Linked DNA regions of Homo sapiens. The protein of the gene in region 5 purifies or fractionates together with the protein of the main gene of each other region. This does not show direct contact. Each region holds a gene or a part of one and is shown on either strand. Other genes may lie near its edges.

The links.
Region 1: the proteins of AIM2 (region 5) and NKX2-4 purify together in Homo sapiens (affinity purification with mass spectrometry; one large-scale study listed by BioGRID and IntAct). This does not show direct contact.
Region 2: the proteins of AIM2 (region 5) and SMARCA5 purify together in Homo sapiens (affinity purification with mass spectrometry; one large-scale study listed by BioGRID and IntAct). This does not show direct contact.
Region 3: the proteins of AIM2 (region 5) and TFE3 purify together in Homo sapiens (affinity purification with mass spectrometry; one large-scale study listed by BioGRID and IntAct). This does not show direct contact.
Region 4: the proteins of AIM2 (region 5) and IKZF5 purify together in Homo sapiens (affinity purification with mass spectrometry; one large-scale study listed by BioGRID and IntAct). This does not show direct contact.
Region 6: the proteins of AIM2 (region 5) and SAFB purify together in Homo sapiens (affinity purification with mass spectrometry; one large-scale study listed by BioGRID and IntAct). This does not show direct contact.
Region 7: the proteins of AIM2 (region 5) and XRCC1 purify together in Homo sapiens (affinity purification with mass spectrometry; one large-scale study listed by BioGRID and IntAct). This does not show direct contact.

Annotation. Positions count from the first base shown.
Region 1 is NC_000020.11:21,394,865-21,398,886, forward strand, and holds NKX2-4 (homeobox protein Nkx-2.4), read right to left. Parts: upstream 2,663-4,022; 5' UTR 2,536-2,662; coding exon 2,094-2,535; exon of another isoform or gene 1,999-2,093; intron 1,670-1,998; coding exon 1,047-1,669; 3' UTR 501-1,046; downstream 1-500. UniProt on the Homo sapiens protein: Probable transcription factor.
Region 2 is NC_000004.12:143,551,702-143,554,843, forward strand, and holds part of SMARCA5 (SWI/SNF-related matrix-associated actin-dependent regulator of chromatin subfamily A member 5), read left to right. Parts: intron 1-1,417; coding exon 1,418-1,483; 3' UTR 1,484-3,142. UniProt on the Homo sapiens protein: ATPase that possesses intrinsic ATP-dependent nucleosome-remodeling activity.
Region 3 is NC_000023.11:49,036,858-49,040,357, forward strand, and holds part of TFE3 (transcription factor E3), read right to left. Parts: intron 2,554-3,500; coding exon 2,250-2,553; intron 1,586-2,249; coding exon 1,340-1,585; intron 1,258-1,339; coding exon 1,153-1,257; intron 1-1,152. UniProt on the Homo sapiens protein: Transcription factor that acts as a master regulator of lysosomal biogenesis and immune response.
Region 4 is NC_000010.11:123,002,296-123,005,795, forward strand, and holds part of IKZF5 (zinc finger protein Pegasus), read right to left. Parts: intron 1-3,500. UniProt on the Homo sapiens protein: Transcriptional repressor that binds the core 5'GNNTGTNG-3' DNA consensus sequence. Involved in megakaryocyte differentiation.
Region 5 is NC_000001.11:159,061,984-159,064,375, reverse strand, and holds the end of AIM2 (interferon-inducible protein AIM2), read left to right. Parts: intron 1-701; coding exon 702-890; intron 891-1,657; coding exon 1,658-1,684; 3' UTR 1,685-1,892; downstream 1,893-2,392. UniProt on the Homo sapiens protein: Sensor component of the AIM2 inflammasome, which mediates inflammasome activation in response to the presence of double-stranded DNA (dsDNA) in the cytosol, leading to subsequent pyroptosis.
Region 6 is NC_000019.10:5,643,583-5,647,082, reverse strand, and holds part of SAFB (scaffold attachment factor B1), read right to left. Parts: intron 1,747-3,500; coding exon 1,684-1,746; intron 1-1,683. UniProt on the Homo sapiens protein: Binds to scaffold/matrix attachment region (S/MAR) DNA and forms a molecular assembly point to allow the formation of a 'transcriptosomal' complex (consisting of SR proteins and RNA polymerase II) coupling transcription and RNA processing.
Region 7 is NC_000019.10:43,558,528-43,562,027, reverse strand, and holds part of XRCC1 (DNA repair protein XRCC1), read left to right. Parts: intron 1-1,007; coding exon 1,008-1,118; intron 1,119-3,500. UniProt on the Homo sapiens protein: Scaffold protein involved in DNA single-strand break repair by mediating the assembly of DNA break repair protein complexes. Negatively regulates ADP-ribosyltransferase activity of PARP1 during base-excision repair in order to prevent excessive PARP1 activity.

The DNA.
Region 1 (4,022 bases), on a different chromosome or scaffold from region 5:
AAATATAAATCGGCATATTAAAGAGTAAATACATTATTTGTACAATAAAACACCAACAAAACCAGTGCAACTCCTAAGTTCTAAATATGGTGGAAAAATTATATTGTAGTTACTTATTCCTTATATCTTGATTACAATTCAATAAATCACCTTTCTTCTTCTTGTCATGCTTTGAATATAGATTAATTGATGTCAATTTTAGAAATTTTACTTGTTTGTTCTAGTACTTTATCAAGGTATTCAAATTCAGACAAGAAAATACCTCAAAGAGAGTAAATACCATGTTTACAGAAGGATAGGGTTATTTATTTTCTCAGTTGATGTTGGGAGACCAGATTTCATATACAAATAGTATACAACCTTTCTTATGGTGAGCTGCATCTTAGGGGGGAAAATCCTCTTTTAGCGTAACATACAAACACTCACTTGCCAAATAATCATCAAAACATTTTGAAATCAGCATTAAATTTAAAAAGCTCCATCAATCCATATAATCAGTATTTTATTTTGATTCCATTGCTCTATTACCTAAATGGCAATAATTCCTCTGCAATAATGTTGCTATGTGTATGATCCACCTTGAGCTACACTTCAATTTACTTTCAATCAAACATTAATGAAATTGCACTTAGGGGGCCCTTCGAAAATTAATCTCCCAAGATAAATTCCACTTCAAAAAGGACTGATTGTTAAAGCTGGGTTGATTTTTATAGTTACAAACGCCAACAAAGTTTCCAACTTTGAGAGCTGTAGTTAAGAATGCCGTGTGAACTTCTCCACCTTTTCGCGTCATTTAAGAACTTCTAGGAGGAGAAAATCACCACCTCAAAGCCTCGTGGCATAATGTTACACTACTCGGTTTCCGGGCTGTCGCTGTCCCCCGCCCCCAGCAAGAGGTTCACAGCCTGCTCCTCTCTGAGACCGGTTCGTTTTGAATCGCAGTTTACACGCGCGAGTCGGTTTTCGCATGCCTCCCCCATCCGTTCTAGCAGTTTCTTGCAGACCCTTCGGGTGCACCAGGACCTAGCCCCGGGGCGCCCTCGCTGTCACCACGTCCTGCCATAGAGCAGGTTGGCGCCCAGGACGCCGCCGCTGTACTCCCCGGCGGCCGCGTCCAGGGCCGCCAGGCCGCCCCCCGGGCCGTGCAGCGCGGGTGGGCTGGGCGACAGCTCCTCCAGCTCAGGTGCTGGCGTCGGGGCCGGCGGCTGCGGACCGGCCTGGCCGGGGGTGGGCGTGCTGGCGCCGTTCTGGCACGGCTTGCCGTCCTTGACCAGCACAGGCACCGCCACGCGGCGCGGGGACGGCGGCGGAGGCGGCGGCGGGCCCAGGCCGCCCTCCTGCTGCAGCTGCTGCGCCGCCTTGTCCTTGGCCTGCCGTTTCATCTTGTACCGGTGGTTCTGGAACCAGATCTTGACCTGCGTGGGCGTCAGGTGGATCATGCTGGCCAGGTGCTCGCGCTCGGGCGCCGACAGGTACTTCTGCTGCTTGAAGCGCCGCTCCAGCTCGTAGACCTGCGCCTGCGAGAAGAGCACGCGGCGCTTCCTTCGCGGAGCGGCTGCCGCCGCCGCCGCGTGCAGCGGGCCCAGCGACTTGGCGGCGTCCGCGATGCCGGTCAGCGACCCCATGCCGGCCACATTCACGCCCGCCGACGGCCCCATGAACCTGGAGACTGGGGAAGAGTCCCAAGGGGGAAGGCGAGTGAGCTCCAGGCCCGCCGGGAGCCGGTCCAGCCGCCGCTCTCTTCACGCCGCGGCCGCGACGCCGCCGGGCCCTCGCTGAATCCCAAGACCCCCTGACCGCCGCGGCCTCCGGCCCCAGCACGCCCCGCGCGCCCTCGGCGGGTCCCAGAGCACCACGCCCTCAACGGGTCCCAGGACGCCGCGCGCGTTCCCGGTCAGGTCCCAGGACCCCCCGCGCGCCCAGGGTCCCCAGAAACCCCGCGCGTCCCGGGCCGCGTCCCAGGACGCCCCGCGCGCCCGCTCGGCCCCAGGACCTCCTAAGCCGCGCGCACCCCGTCCCGCGCCCCCGCGCCCCTCGGCTGTGGCGGGAAACGCCTGAGCCGCCCGCAGCCCCGCGCTCCTGGCCCCTCTCACTTGACGAGTAGCGTGGGTCCGGGTTGGCGCCGTACCAGCCGGTGGCCGCGCCGCCCCGCATGCCGTCCGTGTAGGCGGGCAGCTCGCCCATGTTGCCCAGGCCGCCGTTGCAGTAGCTGCCCATGGCGCCGTGCGGGAACTGCGAGACGCCGGGCGGCATGTGGTAGGTGGCGGCCGCCGCCGCCGCAGCTGCTGCCGCCGCCGCCGCGGCCGCCGCGTTGTGACCCGCCATGGCGTGAGAAGGCTGCATGCCCGCCACGGTCGCCGCCTGCGAGGAGGGCCCAGGTGGCGGCGCGCGGTAGGCGGCCGCGGCCCCCAGGGGCGCCCCCAGGCCGGGTGGCGCGCCGTCCATGGCGCCGCTGAACTTCTTGTAGGTCTCCTCGATGGGGCTCAGGATGTCGGACACGGAGAAGGGCGTCGTGTGCTTTGGGCTCAACGACATGGCTCGGCGGGCAGCCAGGTAGGGGGGCCTGGGGCGCGCGCCGGCAGGACGCGGCGGCCGCTCGTCGCCGCCACCTCGGCCGCGGCAGCTGAGCCTGTGACGAGGAGTCGGCGGCTCGGCGAGCCCCCCGGGCTGCGGGATCTGGGGTTTATTTTAGTCCGGCGCCAGGTTTACGACAGACTCGGGGGGCGGAGCAACATCCCAAACGAGCAAACAATGGTCATTGACATCTTTTTCTCTCGCCCCCCCAACCCCCGCCCCATAATGGAGGCAAAAAAAGGTAAAAGGGGCAGTTGGGTGTTTCTTGGAAAGATCACTCCCCGTTGCTTTTCCCATCTTTGCTTTTCCCATCCTTTGCTTTTCCCATCCTTCGCTCCTCCATCCGCGGCCGTTACCCCAGCCCTCGAGCACCAGAAATAGAAACTCGGAGGCTGGCGTCGAGGCTAGACATGGACTCCGCGCCTGGCCCCTTCCAGATCCCAGTTTTCTAAAGTGACTTCGCACCAAAGTCCGGTATAATTGCGGAATGGGGAACGTGCTGCTAAGTTTGGGGGGAGGGTGTTGCGGGGGCTTGCTTCGTCCTCTCCAGTTATCAGCCCCTCATTCGCTCCATCACCTAAAGTGTTAAAAAAAAAAAAAAAGGCTCTTGGGTCCCACCGTAAGAGCGCATAAAGAGAGGAGGTACAATGACCGTCCTTTGCCATTGTAGGGCTCCCTAATTTATGCGTTTTTAGACCCTTAAGCATCATTTTGTGGGCAACCAAACGGGCACTTCCAAATTAGCTCAAAGTATCCAAGCCCAGAGAAGAGAGAAAACACACATACACTGATAAATACGCAGATGCTAACTTGTAAGTATTCTGTTTTTCCTCTGTGGGGATGGAAATTGAACAAGGGAAAGAGGGGGAACATTTTTATTTCCTAAAATGTTTCCTACTGAGTTTGCACTTGTAAAGTTTTTTCTGCTTTCTTTCCCTTTGTGTGTGTTCTTACTCTCTTTCTCTCAGTAAATATCTCTGACTTAAGTTTATTCTCCCATCACTACCGTGATCAAAAAGAAGAGAAAGACAAAATATCAAAACTTCCAAATATTTCTAGTTGTTCGCAACGGGTCTTTTTGTTGTTGTTGGAAAAATATAACCTGTTCAAGCGATATGAAAATGGATGCAGAAATCAGGTGAAAATTGTAGTTTCTTTGGAAAAATACAAAACCATAGATAAACAGATTTTTAAAACTTTGTCATCCTTTGACTTGCAGTTTTACCCGAATACTTAGACATTATGAACTCTCTACTAAATACTGAACAAGACAAAGCATAAGACAAAAGCAGTGTGCAAAGCATATTGATTAAATTTTGAAAACAATCTTGCAGCAATAATAATGATAACGAGAAAACAAAGATAACACTTTTAAGTTTTCCTGGAAACTGGAGCAGGAGAAAGAAAAACAAGGAGAGTGCTTTCTTAAGCAATATTTTGTTTTATTT
Region 2 (3,142 bases), on a different chromosome or scaffold from region 5:
ATGTAGATGTATGGACTTTACGGACTTATCTCTGGGTTCTCTGTTCTTTTCCACTGTTGCACTGATCTATGTATCTGTTTCTATACCAGCACCATGCTGTTTTGGTTACTATAGCTCGGTACTATAAGTTAAGTCAGGTAATGTGATTCTTCCAGTTTTATTCTTTTTGCTTAGGGTGGCTTTGGCTATTTCTGGGTGTTCTGTGGGTCCATATAAATTTTAGTATTTTTTTTTCTATTTCAGTGAAGAATGTCATGGGTATTTTGATAAGGATTGCATTGAATCTGTGGATTGCTTTGGGTAGTATGGACATTTTAACAATATTGAATTTGCTAATCCATGAACATGGAATATCTATTTTTTTGTGTCTTCAGTTTCTTACATCAGTGTTTTATAGTTTATCTTAGAGATCTTTCGCTTCTTTGATTAATTCCTGGGTATTTTATTTCACGTGTAATTACTGTAAATGGGATTACTTTTTATTTTTCACATTCTTCACTGTTGGCATAGAAATGCTACTGTTTGTTGTATGTTGATTTTGTATCCTGCAGTGTCACTGAATTTGTTTATGAGTTCTAATAGTTTTTTGATGGAGTCTTTAGGTTTTTCCAAATGTAAGATTATGTCATTTACAAATAGGGCAATTTGACTTCTTTGTTTCCGATTTAGATGTCCTTTCTTTCTTTCTCTCGTCTGATTGCTGTAGCTAGGACTTCCTTGAAATACTTAAAAAGTACAAATTTAGCTTGACTGGGTTGTGTGGGAAAAATCACTTCTTGATGATATGGTAGTCCTTAATATGGGGCTTCGTGAAAATCAGGAAAGTATGTCTCGTAAATGTCAAGTGTGTACACATCTCATTGAGAATACAAGTTATAATTTTAGAATAATTTAAGAAACATTGGAAAAGCAGTGGTATTATGACTTTTACTGTTAGTCTCTAAGCTTTGATTATTTCAGTGATGTTTTAGCAATGTGAAGGCAAACACTTAAAGGGAAAAAATGTTATTTAATAATAGTTAATTTAATAAAAAATGGTTAATTTATAAAGTCATGAATAAATGAGTATCTCTGGATAATATTTGGTACTTATGTAACTGCCTTTTAAAAACTCAAGTGTTTCTTACTATTTTGGGAAGCTTGCATTTATTTGATATTGATCTACTACTGTTAATTGTGCATTAGTTTTATAACGTCATTATTAACATTAACATTTTTTATTCTGTAAGTAAAATAAGTAGGTAAGATTATTTGGAGGCTTTATAGTTTGCTTTGAAAGATTTATATAGCCTGGGGGAAAAGTCTCATACCTATTACTTTGTAGTAGTTGTTATTACTAAAGTGTTATAATGTGTCTGCAACTATATTTCATGTTTATATTAGTCTTGTGAAAAGTAATCCTTCTGTCTGTTTGTAGACACAGAAACGTAAAATGGATGGCGCACCTGATGGTCGAGGAAGAAAAAAGAAGCTGAAACTATGAATATGTTTTTGTTTCATAATCACTAACTTTAAACCAGTAGTTCTTTAATTTACGGGTCTTCATAAGATGTACTGTACAATGCTCAATTGTTATGTCATTTAAAGACATCAGGTTCATCTGTTTACTGAGCTAGAAACATAGTATGTAGTTTCACTTTTTTAAATGCAACAGCTGTGCTGAAATTTTTTTATCATTAACACTTGAAGTAATAAAATAGGCTTCATTTATTACTAAGTGTTTCATTTGATTTATTTTTCTATTGTAGTTCCATTTGTGAAGATTGTGACTTTTTGTTTATTAGCTATAATTTCTACACTTGTAAGGCTTAAAAACAAGTTAAAAAGAAAATTGCAAATAACATTTGTCCCTTTCAGTCTTCACCTAGTTGTGTAATTATTTTAATTCACTTTGCCTTTGCAGAAATTTGGGTATTTTCTTTGTAGTGCTATTGAGTCTCATCTGGAAAGATTATATAAATTGCATTCTCCTTGCTTATGTGGGTAGAATGGGAAAAGAAGGCAAGACAAAGTATACTTAAATTCTATGCATATTTCTGTTATGCTTTCTGTTTTTTTTAGTTGATTCTGAAATGAATATGCCCTATTCTTTTGAAAGAATGGCCTTTTAGTTGTATAGCCAAAGACATTTAGTATTTTCCGGTTCCTTAAGGTATTACTGTACCATTTTGTAAAAGGAATATTATTATTATTATTTTTAATTATTTGGTAAATATTTTGTCATATGACCTTCTGAAGCAGCCACAACTTAGATAATGTCAGAACTAAGGTGATTTTTTTTTTTTAATTTTGAAAGCCCAGCCAAAATGAGGTGTGAATTTGTCATACTGTTACATTGAAATTGGTAACAAAATATATCCCCTCCCATTTGGACTTTTAGGGTAAATGAAAATTTTATTGTATTTTAAAGTAGTTTCTAAGTGTTAGCAAGACTGACTATAATTCCAGTTTCTGTTTTCTATGGACAGACCTGATAAACTGGAGACCCTAAAGCAGGAATACCCAAATTATAGTGTCAGGATTTTAGCTGTACCAGAGGCCTTTATGTGCTACACATAATTTGTATAAAATTTTATATGTGCAGATTGGGTACATAAACAGTTCTCCATTTTTCTAAGGGAATGCAATAAATGTAGCATCGTGAATAAATATAACTTTTATAATCCGTAAAGTGGTCTTTTCTTTCCATTTCTTTAATTGTTTTCTCAATTTTTATTCACTTTTTCCTTTAGGACACATTTCCCTTAATTGGATATCTTTCCCTTAAATTTCTATTAGTAGTTGTTTTCATCTGCCCACATGTAATTGAAGATTTAAAAAAAAAATTTTGATACCTGCAGTATTACTAATACTGCTTAATTTCTTGAAATGTGGAATTGCTGCTGTTAATGTCAAGCAAAACGCAGTATTTATGGCAAATTGTAAAGTAATTTGAATTTAGTGCTACCTCAAAATTAACTTTTTAAATACTATGTTAGATTCTTAACAGTTAAAGGTCTAATACATGCATGAGGAATGGTTACTTATGAAAGGAAAAAGAATTTGTAAGAGTTATCACCTCAGTTTGGAAGAAATTGAAAAAATGTAAGGCTGAAGAAAACTTACGGAGGTCACAAAAGTGATGTTTTCAAGAGGAGGAGAA
Region 3 (3,500 bases), on a different chromosome or scaffold from region 5:
AACCAGAATGTTACAATGGTATATCCCTTGCTCTAGAAAGTTTTATCTACTGACTAGAAGGACTCTGCCTCCTGGCACAGTTCACTTGGTATATTCCAATCACTACGAGATCCAACTACTTGTTATAACCCACAGCAAGTTTGAAAACTTTTGTTATGCTTCAAGGCCAGGCGTGGTGGCTCACACCTGTAATTCCAGCACTTTGGGAGGCCAAGGCAGGTGGATCACTTGAAGTCAGGAGTTCAAGACCAGCCTGGCTCACAGGGTGAAACCCGGTCTCTACTAAAAATACAAAAATTAGCCAAGCGTAGTGGCGTACACCTGTAATCCCAGCTACGTGAGAGGCTGAGGCACGAAAATCGCTTGAACCCAGAGGCTGCAGTGAGCCAAGATCGCACCGCTGCACTCCAGCCAGGGTGACAGAGTGAGACTCTGTCTTAAAAGAAAAAAAAGGTAAAAATAAAATAAAACAAAATGCTCCAATCATTACATGGTCTGGTGTATATGTCCCGATGACCTGAATCCCTTGGTACATTCAAGTTGCTATAAGATGCTCATCTCGGCCGGGTGTGGTGGCTCACGCCTGTAATCCCAGTACTTTGGGAGGCCGAGGCAGGCAGATCACGAAGTCAGGAGTTCAAGACCCGCCTGACCAACGTGATGAAACCCCGTCTCTACTAAAAATAGAAAAATTAGCTTGGTATGGTGGCACGTGCCTATAATCCCAGCTACTCAGGAGGCTGAGGTAGGAGAATCGCTTGGACCTGGGAGGCAGAGGTTGCAGTGAGCTGAGACCGCGCCACTGCACTCTAGCCTGGGTGACAGAGCGAGACTCCGTCTCGAAAAAAAAAAAAAAAAAAGATTATCATCTCTTGGTACTTCTCACAGCAAAGCCCAAGCACTTTGATATGCCCTACTGTCTCAGTGAACTCCCCACCTGTATCTCTCACAGTCTACATGGTCCACCTCTCAACACAGTCCAACAAGGTCCAAAGGCATTGTTGACATACCCTGTTCTCGTCATAAGGCCTCCCTCTCTATCTTAGCACAATCAAGGCAAGGGTCTCCTATACACACAGCCAGACTGAGTATGGTCTTGGTGATACAGAAATGCCCTAATTTTCAGACCAACCTCCCATCTCAGGGCCTCACCGTGCTGGGGAGCTGCAGTCCTGTGGTGCCTCCGGGCAGATAGCTGAGCATTTCATCATTGTAACTGGACTCCAGGCTGATGATCTCATCAATGACATCATCAATCTAGGGGAAGAAGTAAATATTATACAGGTTTAGAAGAATTTGGGAGGGGAATGTGGGAGGAGGTTTGGCTGTAGCCTCTTACCTCCTTCTCTGAGCTGGACCCGATGGTGAGCAGCGCCATGGGGCTGTTGGGCGCACTGCCTGTGGGGCCGGTAGTGTGGGCAGCCTCAGGGGCAGGCAGTGGCTGGGCACTTGCGGGCCCCGGCGGTGGGGTGAGGGCCTGGGAAGCCAGCTTGGGCCCGAGTGTGGTGGACAGGTACTGTTTCACCTGCTGCCGGCGCGCCTGCTGCAGGTGGTAGCGCGTTGGGTTCTCCAGATGGGTCTGCACCTGTGAAATAAGGTAGACAAGGAAAGAGAGGGGACAAGGCAGAACAGGACTCAAAGGGGTGAATTCTGAGCCCCAGCCTGACCCTCCTAACTCATTGGTGCCTAGACTCACGCAGACAAGCTGGGCCCAGAATCTGAGAACACCCCAAAAATATTAGCGAGTCTCCCCCAGGACCCAAACTCTCTTTCTCAGAAATCCTTCACAGCTGCCAAGATCCACCCATGACTGACAGGATCCCTCGTAGTTTCTGGAAAACCCTGTCACAGTCCCCAAGATTCCCCACCTAGTCTCTGACACCACCTAATAGACCTGGGAACCATACAATGCTTCCCAAGACCCCCTAATGGCCAAAGAACTAATGTATCCCACACACATGAAGCTCTTCCTACAAAGCCAGGGCCCACTTGGGGCACTCATGAGCCTCCATGGTCCACCAAGACATCCTCATGGCCCCCACGAACTCCTCGCAATTTCACAAGATCATCTCAGAAACCCAAAACACATGAGACATGAACACAGATAATTTAAACAGTACCAGGGACCTTCCTTAGAGCCCCTAAGACCTTGCCCCCAAATCACCAGTGCATCGAGGCCATCCCTAGCTCCTAGGATCACTCCTCAGTCACCAGGAGCCCCCTCCCAGGGCCTCTGGATCTCACCTTACCTTGAGCACCTCCCTGGGCACCTGAGCAGGGGGTGGACGGCTCAATGTGTGGCCCCCAGCAGAGACGCCAACCACAGAGATGGCAGGAGAGGCAGGTGCAGGACTGGGGAAGGGAGCCGCGGCGGCCTGTTCCCGACGCTCACGCCTCTCCTGCTCCTGCGCCTGGGCCCGCATTAGCTGCTGCCGCAGCAAGACCCTCGATGAAGAAGATGACGACATGGCAGGGGTCCTGGAGCCCCCTGCAGAAGACGATGCAGAGAGTGTAGCTGGGGTGGCTGGTGTGGCCTGCAGTGATATTGGGAGGCTGTGGAATGGGAAATATGGGGCCATATTTTAGGTAAGCTAAAAGTCTCATCCCAAGCCTAAAGGGTCTTAGCGTGACGGAGCAGACACAGGAACCAGGCCTGTTCTCTGCCTTCCGAGGCCACAATGTAGAAGCAGAGACACAGGAACCAGGCTTGGTGATGGCTCTCAGGGGTCACAGTCTGATGGGGGACACACTGGAGGTCAGTCTGGTGGGGGAGTTTTAGCCTTTGGTCCTTATGGTGAAGCCTAGATTTGAGCCTGTTCACATATTAAGTGGAGATGCTATTGTTCAGCTCTGCAAGGGGGGGTTTGTCCTATTTACAGGAGAGCAGAAGAAGCAGAATTGAGGCTTTGGCAGCAGAATGTGGATACAGAGGGCTCCTAAGCCCAATGTGAGGCTAGAGAAGCTCTCTGAGCTCCTGGGGGTGGGCGTCAGGTGATAGGAGAAGCCCCAGGTTCCTCTTCTTCCCCTGCCTGGGCCTCTGGTCCCAGGAGCTAGTCAGTCTTGAAAACCTCGGAGATTTCACAATACTCTCTTCCTGCCCCTCTTCCCCCTCCCCTCCCCTCTCTCAGAGCCCGGGCCGATGACTCAGCACATTTAGACTTCCAAGCTTGGGGAAAGAAGAGACCAGCAGGGGCTCCTCAAGGGCTGAGGGTGGGTGAGTTGGTAGTGTGGGAAGGGACTGAGTTGGGGCTAGAGGCATGTCCCCGCCCACCCGGGGACATGAGTTTAAGCAGGCCACGCCCTATCTCTGAGCACTCCAGGCCGGCTGGAACACCTGAGGCTGAAACACTTGCATATGAATGGGTGTGCAGGTGGGCTGGGGGCAGGCAGGGGAGGTCTTGACAGAGATACTGGAATCCTAGCTTGGCCACCTACTTTCCTGTGTGACATGCTCTTTCTGGTCCCTAATTTTACCACCTAGAAAACGCAGGCTGGTGAAA
Region 4 (3,500 bases), on a different chromosome or scaffold from region 5:
ATCACGAGGTCAAGAGATGGAGACCATGCTGGCCAACATGGTGAAACCCCATCTCTACTAAAAATACCAAAAAAATTAGCCGGGCATGGCAGCAGGCGCCTGTAATCCCTGCTTTTCGGTAGGCTGAGGCAGGAGAATCGCTTGAACCCGGGAGGCAGAGGTTGCAGTGAGCCCAGATCGCACCACTGCACTCCAGCCTGGCGACAGAGCAAAATTCTGTCTCCAAAAAAAAAAAAAAAATTATTAGTGCCAGGCACGGTGGCTCATATCTGTAATTCCAGCACTTTGGGAGGCCGAGGCAGGCAGGTCACGAGGTCAGGAGTTCGAGACCAGCCTGGCCAGCATGGTGAAACCCCGTCTCTACTAAAAATACAAAAAAATTAGCCAGGCGTGGTGGCAGAAGAATTGATTGAACCCAGGAGGTGGAGGCTGCAGTAAGCTGAGATTGTGCCACTGCACTCCAGCCTGGAAGACAGAGCAAGACTCCGTCTAAAAAAAAAAAAAAAAAACCAAAACATTATTAGTATTACTACCCCTTTTCAGGTAGAAAAGCCTATTTTTTAGAAAATTGTCTAGGAAGTTGAGACTACTGAAAGTTTATCCTCTGGACAAGTAGAGTATAGTCAACTCTATATCCACAGGTTCTGTTATCTGTTGATTCAACCAACTGCAAAACAAGATTATTTGGAAAAAATGGATGGTTGCATCTATATTAAACACGTACAGACTTTTTCTTTTCTTTTTTTTTTTTTGAGACGGAGTTTCGTTCTTGTTGCCCAGGCTGGAGTGCAATGGCGTGATCTCGGCTCACTGCAACCTCTGCCTCCCAGGTTCAAGCAATTCTCCTGCCTTAGCCTCCAGAGTAGCTGGGATTACAGGTGCCCGCTACCACACCCGGCTGATATTTTTTGTATTTTTAGTAGAGAGGGGGTTTCACCAGACTTTTGTGGGGGGGGGGGTCATAATTCCCTAAACAATACAGTGTAACTATTTACATAGCATTTACATTGTATTAGGTATTATAAATAATCTAGAGCTTAAAGTATGCAAGAGGATGAGATTGTGAGTTATATGCAAATACTAAGCCATTTTATATAAAGGACTGGAGCACCCGCAAATTTTGCTATCTACAGGGGTCCTGGAACCAGTACCTACCAGATATGGAGGGACAACTTTAAGACTATGAACAGGGACCTCTCTCAGCCTTAGTTTCCTATTTTGTAAAATGGAATCATAATCCAACTTGCAGTGCTATCTTAAGTTTTATAGGTAAGTATACATAAAGCATATTGTGACATGTATCACATATGGTAGGCTATCAGAAAATGGCGGCTATTTTTCTAATAATTATTTTTGTAGCAAATAGAAAAAATGGTTATAACTTAGATTTTAAAATTCTCACCACCCCTGATTCCGTTATTCCCCTTTTTCTATGGGTTCATCAACGTGGTTGAAAAATATACTGAGCATCTGTTTCTTAGTTACAACGAAACAAACATGTTCCACCTTAGTCTCAAGTAATTCCAATTTGCAATTTTTCAAATCACTTTGCAATTTCTCAAACAGATCTTTGCTTATTTTACTTATAGGCCACCTCTTTAAATCACTTGCTTTAGTCTGGCTCAGCTTTCTGAATCTTAAGGATTATTGTTGGCTTTTGAACACATTTGTTTCCGTTGTTTTTTTCCCCATCTTATCATGTTTATTTGAACTAGTTCTCTGTTTCTTTATCATTGTGTTACTATTTGTTTTGTGACTACAGTTGATTGTGCTGATTATCTGTCCTTTAAATTTGCTCTTGGTGGGAAAATGTAAGCTAGTCAGCTCCAGTGAAAAAGACTATCAAGAATAAGATCTGGGAAAATATTTTTTTAATTTGTAAAAGCTGTATAGCCCTACAGATTGTCTGCGTTCTAATTATAAAAGCTATAATTAAGAAAGAAATCCCAGTATTTACATTGTAACTTAGCATCACTTCTTGCCAATCAGTTCACATGAAAACTATACATTTCTCCTGGAAAATGTCTGAATATACTTTGACAGGCTTCTGGAAGCAAGATAATCCTTACCAAATCTTGATTAGAAAGCATAACGTTGCTACAGTACAACGTGACAGTGCAGTAAAAACACACAAGACTGCCAGAAAGCAAGCAGAAGAAAATGATATTTTTATACATGCATCTCAAGTTTAAGAACACAAATGAGCCTAATTACAGAGGATGGCTGGCATATTTTGACAGTCTTGGCTATTATCACATTGTCACATTATAAACTTCACTGTGTTCCTTGCCATAAATTGTGTGCTGCTTTTCAACCACAATGCATGATAAACTTAAAAAAAAAAAAAGCATGTCTATGAAATAGAGAACACTGTAACATTGCAAACATGAAGAAAAACTCTTCTTAAATTAGAATTTTAAATATATTAGTATGCTTTATAACCTTAAACATCCTGTCATGATTTAAAAATTAGGTGTCATTTCGTCCCTAAGCATTTTTGTGCCCACTTGACCTGTATGGCCTCTATCCCATATATCCATATACACAGGGTATGACAGGTGCTTGCAAAGCCCTAGTCTATAGTAGAGACATATATGAATGAAAGGTGCCTAAAGTGAAGTAGAGTCTTCGGCTCAAAACTCAGCTTTCTACATCTCAAGTCAATATTTCTAAGCATAATAAATTGAAAAATAGTAATAATTCTGAAACTGGGCTGGACATGGTGGCTTATGACTACAATCCCAGCACTTTCAGAGGCTAAGGTGGGAGGACTGCCTGAGCTCAGGAGTTCAAGACCAGTCCAGGCAACAGAGCGAGACCTCATCTCTAATTTTTAAAAGAAAAAAAAAATTTCTGGAACTACAAAAGACTTCCTCTTATAGAAAGAAAATAAAGGTTTTCTATCTGAGCCATTTTCCTGTCTTTGATGTAATTATCATCAGTCTCAAGTCTCAAAGTTTAATCTAGGAACTCCACAAATTAACTGATACCCAGAGATGCCTCTAAGGCATTGATAAATTTTAAAACCTTTGCAAACATAACAAAATATACTTTAGAAAATCCACAAGCTATAATTTTTTTAGTGGTATCTTTCCTATACTGGACATGAACTCAATACCTTGGTGTTTGTTAGCCAAAAAATTACTTACTTAACACAAAATTTCAATGTATGATATCATGTCATCTGAACAAGAAATATACTTAAGTATTCTCCAGTATTATTACAGATGTGGGTGGTGTTATTACAACTCAGATGTACTCTTTCTGCTGGTATCGTCATGGACTGAATGTTTATGTCCCCAAAAGCTGATATGTTGAAATTCTAACCCCCAATTTGATGGCATCTGGAGTGGGGCCTTTGAGAAATAATTGGGTTGTAAAGGTGAAGTCCTCTAAATGGGATTAGTGCCTTGTGAAGAGATCCAGAGATCTTGCTTCCTCTCTGCTCTTTGCCATGAGAGGATACAATCAGAAAGCAAGCCCTCCCCAGATACCTGATC
Region 5 (2,392 bases):
GCAGTTGTTGCTTCTATGGGCCACCCTGGCCTCCTCCTAAAGGAAGGGAATTTAGGACTGGAAAGATAGGCATAGGAGACAACATGTTCTAAGTAAGACACGTCTGCCTCCTCTGTGTGAACTTGCTAACATCTATTAGATATATACCTGCTAGTTTCAAAGCAGAAACATTTTTTCAAGTTGTCCCTTGAACAATGTAGGGATTAGGGCTTCTGACCCTGAGCAGTTGATAATCTGCATATAATTTTTGACTCCCCAAAAACTTAACTGCTTAATAGCCTACTCTTGATCAGAAGACTTACGGACAACATAAGCAGTCACTTAACACATATTTTTGTGTTATACATATTATATACTATATTCTTAAAAAGTAAGCTAGAGAAAAATGTTATTAATAAAATTATAAAAAAGAAAATATACTAACTATTCATTAAGTGGAAGTAGATCATCATAAAGTTCTTCATCCTCATTGTCTTGATGTTAAGTAGACTGAGGAGGAAGAGGAGGGTTGGTCTTGCCATCTTGGGGTGGCAGAGACAGAGGAAAATTCCCATATAAATGGACCTGCACAGGTAAAATCTGTGTTGTTCAAGAATCAACTGATTTCTTTTTAGAGCCTTCTTCTGGCATGTCTGATGTGTGACTGATGCGGCATTCATTAATCCGATTATCAGAGGCTGGGTGTTGATTTTCTTTTATAGGTAACAGAAAAGAAGAAAAACATATTATTTGACCTAAGTGACAACACTGGGAAAATGGAAGTACTGGGGGTTAGAAACGAGGACACAATGAAATGTAAGGAAGGAGATAAGGTTCGACTTACATTCTTCACACTGTCAAAAAATGGAGAAAAACTACAGCTGACATCTGGAGTTCATAGCACCATAAAGGTGGGAACTGCATGGAACAAAGTCAACTCTCCAAGGGGGTGATATTTTTTGTTTTCTATCAGAAAGCCGGACTGGAGCCATTGAACAGGATATAGAGTGGAAGACATTGATATTTAGTACACGTTCATCTCACAGAACTGAGGAACCTCCCTCTTAGGAAACATGTATTCTAGATACACAGTTAAGAGAACATGGGCTTTTCAAGGCAGAGGCGCATATTGTTGTGCCCACAGAGCCCAAAAAAGAGCTCCTTATTTATACTACAAGTCTAAAGCAGAAAGCTTGCCCAGAGTCGGAAAAGTCATTCTGACTAATGTCTTTGAAAGTAGACAGACAATAAATACTTTGAGGACACATTTCCCTAGCCAGTCCCACCACGTCTGCACCTACCATAGTCCAGTGCAGTTAAGTCCATGTAAACCCCTACTCTTGACCTTCCACCACACCCTCCTACCCGTGTCCTGCCACTACTTGGTGCTCTTCCCCAGGTCTCAGTGTTGGTTGCACTGCCTGCTATCTCTGTAAGAGTGGAGGCCAAGATTTGAGAAATATGCGTATGTGACCTTGCTAAGTGGGAGTGTATTTCTCAGGTCAGATATTCACTTCAGGAGTATGATCCAAGGCAGACCAATGTATTAGAAGGGTGGGAACAAAATAATTTTATGAGAAGATGATACATACACTTCAGAAGGCCATAGTGACTGCAAACAGTGGAGGGGCCACTCATCGACTGCATCTCAGACTGCATGTTTTTTTTCTCCATCCAGGTTATTAAGGCCAAAAAAAAAACATAGAGAAGTAAAAAGGACCAATTCAAGCCAACTGGTCTAAGCAGCATTTAATTGAAGAATATGTGATACAGCCTCTTCAATCAGATTGTAAGTTACCTGAAAGCTGCAGTTCACAGGCTCCTCTCTCCACCAAATTAGGATAGAATAATTGCTGGATAAACAAATTCAGAATATCAACAGATGATCACAATAAACATCTGTTTCTCATTCATTACAGTCCCACTATCTCCTTTAGTTTGTCAATCCCTTGTCTCAAGCGAAAATACTTTATCAATGTATTATATGATGTTTATACAAATTTAAAAGTAAACTATATGACAACAATTGCACAAAATACAAGAGGGAAGAATTAGGAGTACACTGTTAGAAGATCCTGTACAACATGTGAAGCAGCGCAGTATTATTTGAAAGTAGATACTGAATAATTAAAGATGTATATTTTGTCCCATAGGGCAATGATTTAGAAATATTTTAAAAGGTATAGAAATAATAACACAATTTTGTGTTATTGGAGAAAGAATAAGCATAAAGCCCAATGGAAAACTAGAGAGCCAAAACTAGGCTTGCACATTTACAGTCTATTGATTTCTACAAAAGTACAACACAGTTCAGTGGAGAAAAGACTAAAAAAAAAGCTACAACAACAATTAGATATCCATACTTAAAAAAATGAATCTGAGCCATTCCTCACTCTTTATACAAAAATAAACT
Region 6 (3,500 bases), on a different chromosome or scaffold from region 5:
GTCAACTGATGGGCACTGACTAGGTTCCAGGCACAAATGTAAGCACCTTACATACACACAGACTCGTCATCGGTTGCAGGAGGTTGGTCCTAATGGTAGCACCCTTCTTTTTACAGAGTAACAGACTGTGACCAGACAGACTGAGTAACTTGCCCAAGGACACACAGCAGGTGGGAAGCAGAGACAGGCTCTGAGCAAAGGCCGTGTATGAGTGTGAGTCTGCACTGTTAACCATCAGGCCAGGCCCCACGAGCATGGGGACCACCCTTCCTTCTCATTCATCTATGTAATGCTGGTAGTTAATGCCACACCTGACACATCACAGGGGATTCACATATACCCAATAAGTAGGTGTGACTGAATTATAACTTCCCCTGGGAACTGCCCTGCCATTCCAGGATGCTCTATGAAACTGTACACTTTCCTCATGCTTTCACTTATTTTTAATCAGTTTTTTCCCCATGTACCCTACCCCATGCTGGGAATTCTGACCATAGGACTGAAGCAAATCATCAATGTTGGCAGAATAATTCTTCCTCATTTTCTCTAAAGAGAAGCAAATACATTCCTATTTGTTTAGGAGAGACTGTAGGTTTCCCATTTTAACATGGGAGACTGTGACCAAGAAAGAGCCAGGGGAAAGTGACAAGATCCGGCTCCTCCTCTCCTTTCTGAGTCGGGAATGGCCGTGTCAATTTGCAGGTGGAGAGACGGCAGCTCTAAAAGCGAACTGGGTTTCACCACGTTTTCTTGAGATTTGTGCCCTCCTCAAGGTTGGAGCTCTGGCTTTCCAGTATCTCCCTTGCCCTTGCATGGCAGAAGCAAATGGAGATCTTTTCCAAAAGGGGATTTCTAATTACAATAACATAGATGACATTTAAAAAGAAGACGGGAAAAAAAATAAATAAATAAAAAGGCTGGGCAAAAGCTGGCTCGATCTTCATTTCTCCACAAAAAGTTCTCCTAAGAATTAGCCAGCTACCTAGGTAAGTGTGTTCTAACAATTTGTATCTATGTAGGCTGGAAAAAAAAAGGAAACTCAAGACCCACAAATATAAAAATCATACCTGGAAATTCTCAACTCATCTGTTCTCATCTAAGATTTAATATTTACAGAGATGCCAATGAAACAGGTAGGATGATACAGTCATTAAATGAAATCTGGGCAATTTCAGAAAAAACAAAACAAAAACAAAACAAAACAAAACAAAAAAAACTTCCCAAAGACAAGACCAGAACCCCTGAGACCCCACCTTCCCCAACAGGGCTCTGTCAACCCTCAATCCCCATCTGGGCCCTACTCATCTTTCCCAGGTAGCCATGCCCTCTTGCTGTCTCATCAAATCATCTTTCTGCAGGGGATGCCACCCAGGGTAGATGAGACAGGCTGCCTTCCCCTGCCACAAGCAATGAAATTAAGAATGCCACAAAACATGACTCTAATGACTGCTGGTAAGCCACAGCGCTTGGAGGCCACTCGTCGAAGCCTAGAGTTAAGTCCCTGGCAATGCGTACATTATATTTGGAGGAAAGCAGAAAGCAAACACCCATTAACGATCCTGACAAAGGAAACAACCCTTGTGGTGATTATTAGCTGGAACTGGCATATGGTGTCTGAAATGGATTCCAGAAATTGTGGTCTGACCTTTCATTCTAAAAGTACTGAGACATACAACAGTTTACCTGTAATATAGTGAAGTCAGATGATGAAGTATCTAAATTGTTTATAGTTTCTTTGTCCTCTATCTGTAAAATAAATGGAGAAAATACAGTTCATCACACCAACAATAACGTAACATAATGGTACATCTGTACAATGAAAAGTGAACAGCTATGAAAATAATTCACAACAAAATTTTAAACCCAGGGCAGAAATCAAAACACTATTATAGTATAATTGCAGCTAAACTGAAAAAAAAGTTGTATGTAAATGTCCACCTGCACATAGACTAGGAAATCTACTAATATGGTAGCTATGTAGGTTTTAAGATGCAAAAGAAAGAAAAAAAGTCTAAGTCAAACAGAAAAGAGATGAAAATGAGTGCACAGCCTCTAAGTGGATCTGAGCACAGGGTGAGGGCTGTTCTTCCAGGAGCAATGGCTAGAGTCCTGCTGAAGTGGAGCCTTCAGCCACCGCTGCTCGCCCAGCCTGGATGCTGAGGATGTGGGACCTGCTGCCCCTGGGGTAGGTACCTCCCTCAATGGAACAGCATCTCCCAGCATGAGGGTGAGGACAGGAGCTCGAGACTGGCAATATCCTATGCCCTACTTGCAGGGGAAGAATAGCTTTTATTCTAAGAAGTAGGCTCTGCCCAATAAGGCAAAGGATTCCCCAAACAAAGAAAGGGGGTTCAGATAATTTGTGACTGAAACCAATTTTGGCCATCTGCTCTAAAGCCCTGAAATTTGAGATATACTTAGGGGGAGACGTTTTCAGATATTTTATAACCAGCATGTATTTTTATCACTATATTTCACTAGGAAAGACACGCACACGATCAGAAGACTCAAAAGGTACAAAAGCCCATTCACTGAAAACCACTCTCCACTACTCCTTTCTTCCTGCCATGCAGTGGTCATCGCATATGCTACACACGTGTTTAAGTGCCAAAGACCATCTCCCCTTAGACATCTGCACCAGGGGCAGCACATCATTCTGAACCCTCCCCAAGTGTCACTTCTCTTTTGGAGATTGTTTGAGTTCACACAGATGTGCTTAATTCATTTTGATGGTTACACTGCAGTAAAAACTGTATTCGTGGTGGTACATTTCATAACTCTACGGTGCTTTCTAGATGCTAGGCATTGAACTAGGCTGGGAAACACTTTGTTGGAGCTGCCTAGTAAATTCTTCAGGAATTGTAGAACAGATGAGTCAGGACTCCTCTCTGACACTAAAGCACAAAAGCAGCCATAGACAACAGTATCAATAGGTGTGGTTGTGCTCTCAGAAAACTTCATTTACACCATGAGACCCTGTCTTGAAAAAAAGCAAAACAAAGCAAAAACAAAAAAACCCCAAAACAAAAACAAAACAAAACAAAAACAACCCAGGTGACAGCCAACTTGATGACTTCTGCTTTAAGTGTATAATAAACATCCATCCATTGAATCTTCCGAAAACCTCTTGCAAGTGAGGAGCAGAGGTTAAGGAGTTTGTCCAGGGACACACAGAAATTGATCCATCTCCAGAATCTACCTCTGAACTCTTTTTTTTTTTTTTTGAGAGTCTCACTCTGCCGCCCAGGCTGGAGTGCAGTGGCACAATCCTGGCTCACTGCAACCTCCACCTCCCTGGTCCAAGTGATTCTCCTGCCTCAGCCTCCTGAGTAGCTGGGATTACAGGTGTGAGCCACTGTGCCCAGCCAAGCCACCGCACCTGGCCTCAACCCTTAAAACTAAACTGCTTCCAGGCATTTAGGATGTTTCCAGCTTTTGTTGCAGAATGTATGATTTTCTGCTTAGGAGGGAAAAAAACAGCCTTAAGAAGATGCAGCCAT
Region 7 (3,500 bases), on a different chromosome or scaffold from region 5:
ACTACAGGCATGTGTCACCATGCCCGGCTATATTTTATATTTTTAGTAGAGAAGGGGTTTTGCCATGTTGGCCAGGCTGGCCTCAAGTGGTCCACTGCCTTGGCCTCGCAGAGTGCTGGATTTACAGGCTTGAGCCACTGCACCTGGCCCAGGTACCTTTGAGAGTTGTAATAATGCGTCATTCTAGGATCCTAATAAAAGAGCCCCAAACTGGAAGGCAGGACACTTGCCTCAACCTAACTGCCTCCCGTGCCCGCATGGCCCGCACGGCTTTCTGCATCTTCATCTGTCAGACAGGAATGGCAGATCCTTTGAGATGAGCCCTCCTATAGGTAGCTCTTTTCTTCTTTCAACAAATAGTTGTCTAGCACTGACTAATAATACCTCCTGACTGACAGCAGATAATTGCCTACTCTTCGCCATGCCCTGTGGCCATTATTTATGTGCATGATCCTAGATATGGTGGTCATTCCCATTTTACAGATGAGAAAACTGAGGCTCCAAAAGGTTAACTGGTATGGTCATACAGCTAGTGTGCAGCACAGCTGGGATTCAAACCCAGGAACCAGCGGTGAGCAAGATCGGACAAAGCCCCTGCCCTCAGGGAGGTTTCCTGGAGTCCTCTGCGATTGTGGGTGAGGGGTGACATGTGCTGTTTGTCTGCATGATGATTTGAATAAAGTTATAACTCTGGCAAGTGCTTATCAAGGAGAGCTCTATGGCAGTGTGTGATAAGCTGACCTGGTGGAGTCTGGAGAGGTCAGGGAAGCAGGTATGTGTGAGGTGGGCGCGTATGCATTCATTCAGTGACTATTTTGTGAGTTTCTGCTCCATGCCATACCCTGTGCTGCATGGAGGGGACACATGGCACCATTCAACCCTGGTGTGCCCCCTCACAGAATTGACATTACAGGGACATGGTGATCCAAAGGAGATTCATCCTGAGGTCCCACAGTGAGCCCAGAGGCAGAGCAGGCACTGACAGTGGCCTCTCTCTCTGCCCACAGTTGGAGAAGGAGGAGCAGATACACAGTGTGGACATTGGGAATGATGGCTCAGCTTTCGTGGAGGTGCTGGTGGGCAGTTCAGCTGGAGGCGCTGGGGAGCAAGACTATGAGGTAAGCAGGGCTATGAGATGGATCCCATACTGACCTCTGCCCCTCATGCTCGCATCACCGTCTCCCCCAGGGGCTGGGGCTGGGAAGACATGGGGCAGATGTGAGTCACACCTGATTGCTGCCCTCTGGAGGATCACCCAGTGTACGGAGGAGACAGAAGGCAGACACAGGGCGGTAAACTGCACATCAGGGAAGAGAGCAAGTTTGGATCATGGCTTAAAATGACACAAATGTATTATTCGACTGTTCTGGAGGTCAGAAGTCTGAAATCACTCTCACTGGGCTAAAATCTAGGTGTAGGCAGAGCCCTGTTCCTTCTGGAGGCTCTAGGGGAGAATCCATTTCCTTGCCTATTTCAGCTTCTAGAGTCCATCTGCCCTCCTCAGCTTGTGACCCTTCCTTCATCAAAGCCAGCACTCCTGTCACTCTAACGCCTGCTTCCACTTCCATTGTTACTTCTCCAACTCTGACTCTCTTGCCTTCTTTTTTTCTTTTTCTTTTTTTTTTTTTGAGACGGAGTCTCGCTCTGTCGCCCAGGCTGGAGTGAGTGCACTGGCGCGATCTCAGCTCCTTGCAACCTCTGCCTCCCGGGTTCAAGCTATTCTTCTGCCTCAGCCTCCCGAGTTGCTGGGACTACAGGTGCCCACCACCACGCCCGGCTAACTTTTTTTTTTTGTATTTTTAGTAGAGACGGGGTTTCACCATATTGGCCAGGCTGGTCTCGAACTCCTGACCTCGTCATCTGCCCGCCTCAGCCTCCCAAAGTGCTGGGATTACAGGCGTGAGCCACTGCGCCTGGCCTTCTTTTTCTTTTGTTCATTTTTTTTTGAGACAGGGTTTCATTTCCGTTGCCCAGGCTGGAGTACAGTGGCGTGTTCTCAGCTCACTGCAACTTCTGCCTCTGAGGTTCAAGTGATTCTCCCACCTCAGCCTCCCAAGTAGCCAGGGCTACAGGTGCACACCACCACTCCTGGCTAGCTTTTGTTATTTTTTATAGAGAGAGGGTTTCACTGTGTTGCCCAGGCTGGTCTCAAACTCCTGGGCTCAAGTGATCCACCCACCCCAGCCTCCCAAAGTGCTAGGATTACAGGCATGAGCCACCACACCCAGCCCTCCTTTCTTATAAAGACCCTTATGATGACACTTGGCCTACCCGGATAATCCAGGGGCATCTCCCCCATTTCAACATCTTCAAGTTCATCACATCTGCAAAGTGCCTTCTGCCACATTTCCAGGTTCAGGGATTAGGATGTAAACATCTTTGAGGAGCTGTTATTCTGCCTGTCTCCTATGTTTTCTTCTAGAAGCTTTCTATTTTTAGATTTTACATTTAGATCTCTGTTTCATCTCAAGTGAATTTTTGTGTATTGTGTGAAGCAGGGGATAAGGTTTATTTTTTCTGTATCTTTTTTTTTTTTTTTTTTTTTTTTGAGATGGAGTCTCACTCTGTTGCCCAGGCTGGAGTGCAGTGGCGCGATCTCGGCTCACTGCAAGCTCCACCTCCCGGGTTCACGCCATTCTGCCTCAGCCTCCGGAGTAGCTGGGACTACAGGCACGTGCCACCATGCCCGGCTAATTTTTTGTATTTTTAGTAGAGACAGGGTTTCACTGTGTTAGCCAGGATGGTCTCGATCTCCTGACCTTGTGATCTGCCCACCTTAGCCTCCCAAAGTGCTGGGATTACAGGTGTGAGCCACCGCACCCGGCCCTTTTCTGTATCTTTTTTATATGTTTGTTGACAATGCTTATTTATTTATTTTATTTATTTTAAGACAGAGTCTCACTCTGTTGGCCAGGCTGGAGTGCAGTGGCATGATCTTGGCTCACTGCAACCTCCGCTTCCCAGACTCAAGGGATTCTCCAGCCTCAGCCTCCTGAGTAGCTGGGACTATAGGTGTGAGCCGCCATACCCGGCTAATTTTTTAAAAAATTTTTTGTAGAAATGGGGTTTCACTACATTGCCTGGCTGGTCTTGAACTCCTGAGCTTAAAGTGATCCTCCCACCTTGGCCTCCCAAAGTATTGGGATTACAGACCTGAGCCACTGCACCTGGCTGAAAATACTTTGAAAAAAAAAAAAAGACTTGCCTTTTCTCATTGAATCATTTTGACTCCTTGTTGAGAATTAATTAACCATATGTATGGGTTTATTTCTGTACTCTCTTCTCTGTTCCATTGATATGTATAGTTTTCTTTATGCCAATACCAAACTGTCTCTTTTTTTAACCATATTATTTATTTATGTATATATGTATTTATTTATTTATTTATTTATTTATTTGAGATGGGGGTCTCACTCTGTTGCTCAGGTTGGAGTACAGTGGCATGATCTCAGCTCACTGCAACCTCTGCCTCCTGGGCTCAAGTGATCCTCCCGCCTCAG